3 separate regions of the Homo sapiens genome follow, and regions 1 and 2 are each reported to be linked to region 3. The links are microRNA targets in miRTarBase. Many come from high-throughput screens and were not tested one by one. Region 3 holds a microRNA gene; each other region holds the end of a gene's coding sequence.

Region 1 (3,000 bases), not on the chromosome of region 3:
AGTCCCAGCTACTCAAGAGGCTAAAGGTGTGAAGGTTAGAGGATTTGCCCTCTGACCTTGGCCCAGCCACTTCCCCCCTGTGGAGCGGGGTTCTCACCCTGCTTTTTCCCTGGCTCTGATGGAGCCTTTGGGCTGCAGTCGTGCTTGAGATGAATGGCCCTGCCCCCGTATCCCTTCCTCCATGAGCTGCTGCGGCCCACCTAGTTGTGACACCTGGTGGTGGTCTTGTAATTGCCCACGGCTTTTCCCTCTCCTCTGGACTCTGGCCTCCTCCCTCCCTCTGTGGCCCTAGCACCTGGCAGATGCATTGGATGGGCAGCAGGCACTCAGAACATGTTTTTATAATGAATTCCTCAACCAAGGGAACTAAGGGACTTGCTGTTTCCTTACTGTCACCTGGGATTCTTTTTGCTGTTTTCTACTTTCTGATTGCTTTTCTTCCTGCTAATTCAGTTTCATCTTCTCTTTTCAGATGAAGCTACTAAACTTATACATAAAGAGGGCCCAGACCACCAACAGCAACAGCAGCTCCTCCTCCGATGTCTCCACGCACAGCTAATGGCAGTACCTGTCTCTTGTGTAGACCTAGAAGCAATCGGTGGTGCCTCTCAGAGACCTTTCCCCACCCCCTTCATCGGCTGCCCAGTCAGTACAAGGAGGCCCACAAATATTTATTACAATCAGTATTTTGGTCCCTTCCAGCTTTTCTGTAGAATCTTACTGGTATTGAATGTAAAGGAAGCAAGGCCTGTATTGCAGTCTTCATACAAAACAAAAGGAATAAGAACAGAAAAGAGCCATACTGAAACATGTCTTGTACAGCCTGCTGAGATGGCGAAACCCTGTGTGTGGGGTGCAGTTTTTAAAAATCAGAGCGCTCTAGCCACTACTTGGTAGAAAGTAGCATTTTTTTTTTCAGTTAATAACATATTTGGGGGTGGGGTGGGGTGTTACTTTGTGTTCTTCCTCCTTAGCCTATTTTCTTGTGCGTATGGTCTGTGTGGGGCCCCTTTCACAGCTGACACCACGAAAGGTGATATATCTTTAAGTTGTGTTCTGAGACCTACTAAAAATGGGAATCAAGTCTTGGCAAGAACAGTCTGAAGATGGCCTTTTAACAAACGCTGGGAATTTTGCTTGTCATATCCAGACTGGAGGCCGACTGCCCTGGCTTTCAGCGTAGAATTGGGAGTGCACCCTGACAGTCTCCTTCCAGCTCTCCCTAATCGACTCCACCGACAAGGTCCCTACCCCAGAGCTTCCATGCAAAGGAATTCTTCAAGTTTAAATCTGGACACAAAAATAAGATAAATGTATGGCATCATTTAGGGATGCCTGAGATGGCAGTTCATGAAGCACAGAAGATAAAGAAGAAGTCTTTCATCTTTACTGCTGAGATCCTTGGGAACACTGTTGTCATGGGGGCTCTGCCAAGACCCTCATCTCTGGGCTACACGGTGATTCAGATTGAGCACCAACTTGTTTCCTCCCCTCAAAGTTCTGCCTAAGCCGTTCAGTTCTAACATGGTCTCAGTTAATCTGGTAAATGGCATCTTTACCATCTTAGTTCTGACTTCTCAGTTTAATGTGGGATTAAGAGCCAAGAAAAGCCTAGAGAGACTGGATATCACAATTTTTTTTAATTTTATAAACTGAAGTAGTTCCTTGAATGTCTGTTGATGAAATAGTCACTGTTTAAGGAAAAAAGTAATTATGAGGTGTAGCAGATTGCAGAAAAACAGGATTAGAAACACACTTAAAAAGAACACACATTTAGAGTCTCTCTTCCTCCTCAGCGAACCACTAGGCCCCCTTTTTAAAAACACCTTTAGAGCCTAATTACTCCAATAAAAGTAACTAGAGGTTTGGAGTCTGGTTAAATAAATTCTGAGTAAAATTCTTAAGCCAAATGGAAATTCTTAATGCAATCATGAGGACTTCTATTGTCTCTTACTGTTGTATTAGATCCTATAAATTGAACTGATTTTTCCATAAGGAAAATGCTTCTTTTGAGATTAATTCTAATAACGTATTTGCTATTGCAGTGCAGAGCCCACTGCAACTGCTAGGACTGAAAGCAGAGGCTGGGTGCCAGAGCACGTGATTCTTAACATCATTTCCACAGACCCCTCTGCCCTGACCCTCTGCATTGGATGCAGGAAGCTGGGAAAGACTGATGTTGATTTGGAAACATGGGCTGAAAATGAAGGCCCCATAGTGCATAGGAACAGTAAAGCCAGGGTGCTGACGTGTGTGTGTGTGTGTGTGTGTGTGTGTGTGTGTGTGTGGTGTTGTGTGTGTTTGTGCGTGCACCCTACACATGTGTGGTACCTCACTGCTGCTGTTTAGGGAACTTGAGGGACGCGTTTCAAGGGGTTGGGTATTACTGACGAGCTTTGGCTCAAAATATAGCAGGACCAGGTCTTTTGTTGATAAGTACTGTTTGTTTATTAATATGTCATTAATGGTATTTCTTTTTTACACTCTACAAGTGAATTAGGGAGTCTCTTGTTGACCCCTTTGTTGCAGGAATGTGCGTCGGGCTAGGTTATCCATGAGTTTCTTTATTCCTAATGCAGTTAGAAAGACCTTTCTCCTTGAGCTCTTTGACTCCCAGAAGGTACCCCAGTCCCCAGTGTACTTAGAAAGGATCTCGAACATTGCTGGACGTCCTCATAGTACTCACAAAGGGCTAGCCTTGAATGTCACTCGCCCAGTCTTCAGTCTCCTGACTTAGAGATACAATCACGTCACAGGTCTCTTGGCCTCAATCTGAAAACTGCTGCCGCCGCGCCGAGGAGACTCGCATGCCGCCACCACCTCACTGGGAGGGCGCCGAGCCCACCGTCGCCCCCTAGACCCTGACAGCTGCAGCTGCCTTGCCTTGCCGCCGCCTCCCTGCAGGGCCCCTGTTCCAATGAAAAACAGAACACAAAAGAGCAGAGCACCTAAGCCTGTCTCTGCCTCCCTGTCTACCGGACTGGCCAGGGCCCAAGACCC
Region 2 (3,000 bases), not on the chromosome of region 3:
TCCTGCTACAATGGCAGCAAATGAGTCTCAGGAAATTGATGAAGATGAAGGCATCCACAGCCATGAAGGAAGTGACCTAAGTGACAACATGTCAGAGGGTAGTGATGATTCTGGATTGCATGGGGCTCGGCCAGTTCCACAAGAATCTAGCAGAAAAAATGCAAAGGAAGCCTTGGCAGTCAAAGCGGCTAAGGGAGATTTTGTTTGTATCTTCTGTGATCGTTCTTTCAGAAAGGGAAAAGATTACAGCAAACACCTCAATCGCCATTTGGTTAATGTGTACTATCTTGAAGAAGCAGCTCAAGGGCAGGAGTAATGAAACTTTGAACAAGGTTTCAGTTCTTAGTTTGTAAGGTATATTACATTTTATATTCATTTATGATAGCAGACAACCTTTTAAGATTGCTTTAATTAGTATCTGATGTTGATTTTTAAGTGGCATTCTTTTCCTTAGGACTTTTTATGTATACCTGTTGATTGTTGTGTAAATTTTAGTAAATCTAAGAGAGTGTACTAAACCAGCAGGTATCTGTTAGCTTATGTGTTTAATTGAAATTAGAAGGCTAAGATGGTATAACAGCATTTTATTGCTTTGTCCAGCTACAACTTGTCATTTTTTTCTCCATGTCTTATCTTCCTGTTTCACTTTAGTTTATTCTTCGTTTTTTATTGAGATCTATAAAAAATTGGCTTACTTAATAGCAAATTACTTGAAGAATTTGCCTGCTTTATATAAAGTTAGCACTTTAAGATTTTTTTTTTTAGAGATGAGAAGACATTTAAATTGAAGAAAAATTCCCCCAGCAATAGACAGTCTATCAGTCCAAGTATTTACTTCCTGAGTTTTGATCAATATTTTTTATTTGTGTATGTTAATCGTCATAAAAACAGTGATTTTGGTGTGTTTTTTATTTTGGTGCTTTAATGGCTTAAGATGTTGCACATTTTTTTTTTCTTTTGGTTTCTGTTTATGTTTTTTTGCCTATGCAGTTAAATTTTTCCTAGAAATAGCATTTGTGTTGAACAGTAACACTTTATACATATATATATGCATGTTTATTTTGTTTGGCGTCTTTGGAGGGATGCTTTTAGACTTGTTTGCAAAAGGGCAGTTTTCTTTTTCTTTGCTGCAGTTGTCTATTTTGCAGAATAATAGTGTGTGCAAGTTTGTGAGCAAATGAAATATGCAGGTTCAATCTATTGATTTTGATTTTTACATCTTATATCTATGCCAGAATCTGTATTTCATATAACTTATTTATTTCGAATGGATGTAGTAAATTCACAGCTATCAGTTTTGATTTTGCAATAAATAAACCACTAGGTTGCATGTCGAACAAATTTTTATCTCAAATACCAACCATCAGTTTTTTTTTTCATGTGTTTTGGTACAGCTAATTCCTAATTGTAGAGTGTTAAATGTTTGAGGAGAACCTTTTCTCATAGATGGTTGGTGTTCATATGGCTACTTTACAATAAAGAGAACTGTAAGTGATATTTGGAAACTACAAACCTGGAATTAGGAGATATAATTATTCCTTCAAGTTTTATAGAATATCACTTGGGAGATTCCAAAGCCATAGCTATTACGCGGCAAACCTAGGATAAGAAAGGTAGTATGAGTGCTGGTAGACCAGCTGCAACTTTCCTATACAGTGAAAAAGGCTGGTGAAACAAGTACAGTCCAGATTTTTTAAAATCATACTTTCTCAGGGATCTCCACAAACTGGTGGGTGTCCTGGCTGTCTGTGTGATAGCCTCTTTCTATAGGTGAGGCCTCAAATGAATTGCAGCTATCCTGGTGTTCCTATGAGGGCACTTTGTATGAAAAAGGGCATGTACTCCAAAACATTTTTGTAGGTTCTTTGGCCAGTTGCCAAAGAGTGTGAAAGAATCCAATAGAGGATTTTTCTTACTGATAGCAGTCATTCATTGCAGTAAAATAAAATATGATCCCATTAGGGAATCTTGAATTCTGACCTCCCATACTCCGTTTTGAAATAACCACTTTATATTTCATTTTTTAAAAATCTGATGATCTCTTTGAGGCAGGTTTCAGATTTGGCAGTACAACATGAAAGATTAGGAAAAGCATTAATAACGTGTGGGTGGAAAGCTTGTTAAAAATCTGAGAGTGAAGTTTGAGTTAAAAGTTGTTTGAACATGGCATTGACTGGGAGGCCAAAGATTTAAAGAAGCGGAAGATTCTTCTCTTAAGACATGAGGAGTAAGTTGTGTGATAATGGTATGTGTTTTGTGTGCATGAATGGACATTGTAAATGTTGAATTCTAGGCTCCGACAATCATTGTCAACAGAAGATCAAGCTGCAAATATTTATGTTTTAAAACTTAAATTATAAAGCTAGTTAAGTCTTTCTAATGACTAGTTTTAATGTTCATGGGTACATTTTACCTAAGTTACCGTTTACATTGTATAGAAAAAGATACATCTTAAGCACAGATTGGTTATTAGGAATTAGTTTGGGGAAGAGGTTTTTTTGTGGATTCTTTCATACTGCAAAGAAAAACCATTTGCCTTTTGGGGAATTGAGCTAACTTCTAATCTAGTCTTAAGACTAGAATGCTAAAAACAAAAACATGAAGGAAATTAAAACCCCTTATTATTAAATTGATTTGTAAAAACATTGTTACTGGAAATTTATTGGACTTGAGGCCTTCCTCCAGAAAATAAGGACTTGATTGTCAGGCCTATATTAGGTTCTGAACCTTAATGCCATGTATTTGTACTTACTAAAAATTGTTTCAATGAAAAGTACATTAGCAGTATGAACTTCTGGTCCAGTTGGAAGTTTTTCCATTTGAAAAATGTGATGTTTGCATGGAACTGTTTGAAACTTTTTTATTTTCTAGTCCCCCTCCCCCACACTGGATAGAATTTAGCCTAGAATTTTCCCTTTGGATAAAAGAACAAAAATTGAACATGTTATTTGTAAATTGATGTTTAGTAATTAGTGATAAACTTGAAATACTAGCATATAT
Region 3 (3,565 bases):
AAGAACCTTCTCTTGGGGTCTGGATCCTGGATTGGGACCCCTTTCCTGTAGCTGAACGGTCACATTACTTTGTTGCTTATTCATATGTTTAAGCATCTTTAAGATCCTCACTGCAGCGAAATAAAGCTCAGAACTTCAAACACTATAAGTATTCCCAGGCCCTTGCTGCTATGTCTTAGATATTTACAGCTTCCCCTGAATTCTTTTTTCTTTATCCTTTGTTTTGGGGAAGGTTGTTTTATGTTTTTCTATTCTCACTTATATTATTTCTCTCCATTTCAGTTTAATATTATTTTTCATTTTTCCTTAATATTCATAATTCAGTTTTCCCCCACACTTGGCACCCTACCCTCTACCCTCTGTCTTCAATTCTTTCCACAATTTTCGCTCCTTCCCTTTTTGCTGTCTCAAGTGAGAACATAGGCACATTTATTTAACCCCACTGGAAATCCTGTGTTTTTGTAGGAAAAGACTTGCTTTCTTGGCAGTGCTAAAAATAAAGTAATTACTGAAGGAATGCATGATGGGGCCAGTTAGTAACCTGATAAATGGAACTTGGATACAAAGCAGAGATGAATAAAAAGACTCACCTGGTCCAGGATACTGGCTTAAAATGAGCCCTGCAGCAAGGCTGACTTGATTATGAGCTCCAAACCAGGAGGCTTTTCTTTCCTCAGTCTAGGAGGCAGGAGTAAGCCTGACAGTGGCAAGAAAGTATCCTCAAGAGTGGGCTAGGGAGGGATGGGGTAAGTTGTGCTGGTAAGGACACCGTGGGAGCAGTGAGCCAGTACATTCCATTCTTACATTTTTTGGCTTTAAAAAACGGAAGGACAGAGCTATATTACTCCATTTCTATTTTGTGAAAAAGTGTAAGCTTAATAATTTTAAAACTCAAGGCTACGTTTGATTTTTCCAAAGCACAATTAAATAAAAAATAGCTCCCTCAGTGGCTCATACCTATAAGAAGCCAAATGGTTTGGATAAAAATACTATTCCCAAGTCACCAGCATCAGCCTGTATAAATAAAATTATTAGGACAGGCAAAGCAATTCAGAGGAAAGAGCATCGCTTGGGGGTAAAATGTTTAAAGAATACTGTGAATTTCACTGTCACAAATTCAAATAAAGTGAGAGTGGAATTCACAGTATTTAAGGAATCAATCCTTGCTGCTTCTGTTTATGAAGCCGAGCTTCAGTTTTCTTGCTCTGACAATGGACACAGTGATTACCTCAAGGGTTGCTGTAGGAGTTAGATGAGATATCTATAATGTAGGAAAGGTGTTTACTACAATGTAACTCATGGATAGGGGCCTATATTGGTTTTCCATTGCTGTGTAACAAATTTCCATAAACTTAGTGGCTTAAAACAACAGACATTTATTATCTTTCATTTCTGTCAGAGGTCCAGGCAACTGAGTGGTTGATATCTCTGTTCAGGGTCTCACGAGGCTGAAATCAAGGTGTCAGTTAGCTGCATTCCCCTCTAGAGACTTGACTAGGGAAGGATTCTTTTCCAAATTCCTTCAAGTTGTTGGTAGAAGTGTTTCTTGCTAGCTTCAATTAGGGATGGATCTCAGCAACTAGTGACCACTCTCAAGTCTTTATTATATGGCCCCTTTTATACTCAAAACCAGCAACAGAGAATTCCCCCTCACATCAAATCCCTCTCACACTTTCAATCTCTATGACTCAGAAACGGGCTCACCTGGCTAGGTCAGACCCACCAGAATATTCTCCATTTTGGCTAGCTCACAGTCGCCTGATGAGCAATGTAATCATAGCAGTGGTATCATACACACAGGTCTGCCTGCACTCAAAGGAGAGTGATTATCAAGGAATGCACACCAGGGGCGGCAGGAATCTGGCAGCTATCTTAGAATTCTGCCTGCCACCATTTCCATTAAGTGATTGTTGTTGTTTGTTACTGAGGCATAGATGAAGTAGCACTTATGCAGGAAAAAAACCACTAGTCAATCAGAATTTCAAGTTGTATGATGAGGTATTCCATAGAAATTAAACATGCGTATAACAGATTCTCATAGGTCAGGACACATGAAAAATTTAAGGAAAGGATGAGGACTCCTTAATTTAGAGGGACTTCTGAAAGGTGACTTAATGATGACCCAACACTATATGTGAAATCATGTTTGGCTTCAAAAGCACTGTGGGCAGAAAAGGAGAAAACGTTTAATCTAGAGTACACAGTTATGGCATTATCTGGAGGGAAGGATAAAGCTACAAAGATTGTTAAAACTAAAATTTGTTGCCAAGGGAGCCATTCGAGCTCTGTCTGGAGATCTTCTAAATGAGAGTAAATTATTCTGTACTTGAGGTGGTTTGGGCACTGTCCTCCCTGAAGCCAATGTAGAGATAAAGTGTTGTTTTCACTCCTTCTAGTCCTGTGATTCTGCGTCTAAGGAGGCAAACCACCTATTGAATCAGTGCTCACCACAGGCTCCATTGCAGCATTGAACTGTGTCTGTGAGAAAGAATAAGGTTAAGTCAGGATTCCTTGATTAAGACGAGTTAATATAAACACTGAAAATCCAGTGTGCTGCCAGCATAGCTTTTGGCAGCATCAACACAGAGAAGAAAGAGCTGTAACAGAATAACAGCAAAATAACTTCGGGTCCTTCCTTCTCCTCCACCCACAAAATCCCATTTGGTGATATGAGAATCTAAATTGCTCAGTGCTTGGATGTTTGGCTGTCACATGTCATTGTTGTGTTGAACCTTCCCAGGCATGTACAGAGCTCACTGCTCAGGAGATTAATGTTCAAAAGCCAAAATGCTTGACCAAACTTGAAATCTATTTGTGGAATTTACTGTTTCATCATTGAACCATGAAAAAATAAATTCAGCAAATATAGTCCTAATACTCCAGCTCATCATGAAATGTCTCTTAATTTCTTGACGTGTCCATGAGTTAGAGACAGCTGAGAAAGGTTTCATTATCTTTGTCTACTTACATACATTCTTTCTCATTTCTTTTTCTTTTTAAAATCTAAGGCTTTTTTTACTTGAGAAAGGAGTTGTTCCGATTACTGTCAGTTTCTCTGGCTGATGTGATTTTCTCATCAGAAGCCTTGAACCCTTCTCCTTTTAACTTGATAGCAAAGAGAAATCATGATAGCTTCTTTTGACATCACTTTACACAAAAACAAACAAAACAAAACAAAATTATCATAAACTGGTAGAACAAGAAGACAGCATGTAGGGAACAAAACAACCATGTTCTTGATTCTAATGAGGTACATGATTTACTCCTACCATGGAAAATTCAAATATCTACCCTTGAACTTCAACAAGCATTTATGACTTGTTGATCTACTTATAGAACTAAATGATTATTTTGCAAAACATCATCTCTGTCTTTAAGTACTCCCTACAGAAGAAAGAAATGGAACATTAGTGTAAACATGATGGTCACTAAGAACTTGTGGACACTGAAGAAAGGCTATGGATAAATGATCCAACAATAAGAGAAAGCTTCTGAGTATGCCTCAGACCAGTGACTGACTGGGTTTTCTGGGAATATATTTTTTGGACAATGGGTCCAGGAAGAC

Evidence for each region. The annotated mature microRNA hsa-miR-4693-5p reads AUACUGUGAAUUUCACUGUCACA and lies in region 3 at 1,092-1,114, shown strand. An mRNA with a match to its seed (bases 2 to 7 or 8) in the 3' UTR can be bound and repressed. Matches are read on the target gene's strand: a 7mer-m8 pairs with bases 2 to 8, a 7mer-A1 pairs with bases 2 to 7 and ends in A, and an 8mer does both.
Region 1: miRTarBase lists CLASP1 as a target of hsa-miR-4693-5p. Seed matches in the 3' UTR shown: 7mer-A1 at 2,228-2,234.
Region 2: miRTarBase lists REST as a target of hsa-miR-4693-5p. Seed matches in the 3' UTR shown: 7mer-A1 at 1,024-1,030.

Annotation. Positions count from the first base shown.
Region 1 is chr2:121,338,420-121,341,419 of GRCh38, reverse strand. It overlaps CLASP1 (cytoplasmic linker associated protein 1), which reads left to right. Exons shown (of 41, transcript NM_001395891.1): 41 at 473-3,000. The coding sequence ends at 559. Among named protein-coding and RNA genes, the nearest start is that of TFCP2L1, 55 kb to the right of the region's middle.
Region 2 is chr4:56,931,837-56,934,836 of GRCh38, forward strand. REST (RE1 silencing transcription factor) reads left to right here. Exons shown (of 4, transcript NM_005612.5): 4 at 1-3,000. The coding sequence ends at 316. Among named protein-coding and RNA genes, the nearest start is that of REST, 25 kb to the left of the region's middle.
Region 3 is chr11:103,848,824-103,852,388 of GRCh38, forward strand. It overlaps MIR4693 (microRNA 4693), which reads left to right and starts at 1,083; the gene lies at 1,083-1,157. LOC102723862 (a long non-coding RNA gene) reads right to left here and starts at 728. Exons shown (of 4, transcript XR_001748346.2): 1 at 591-728.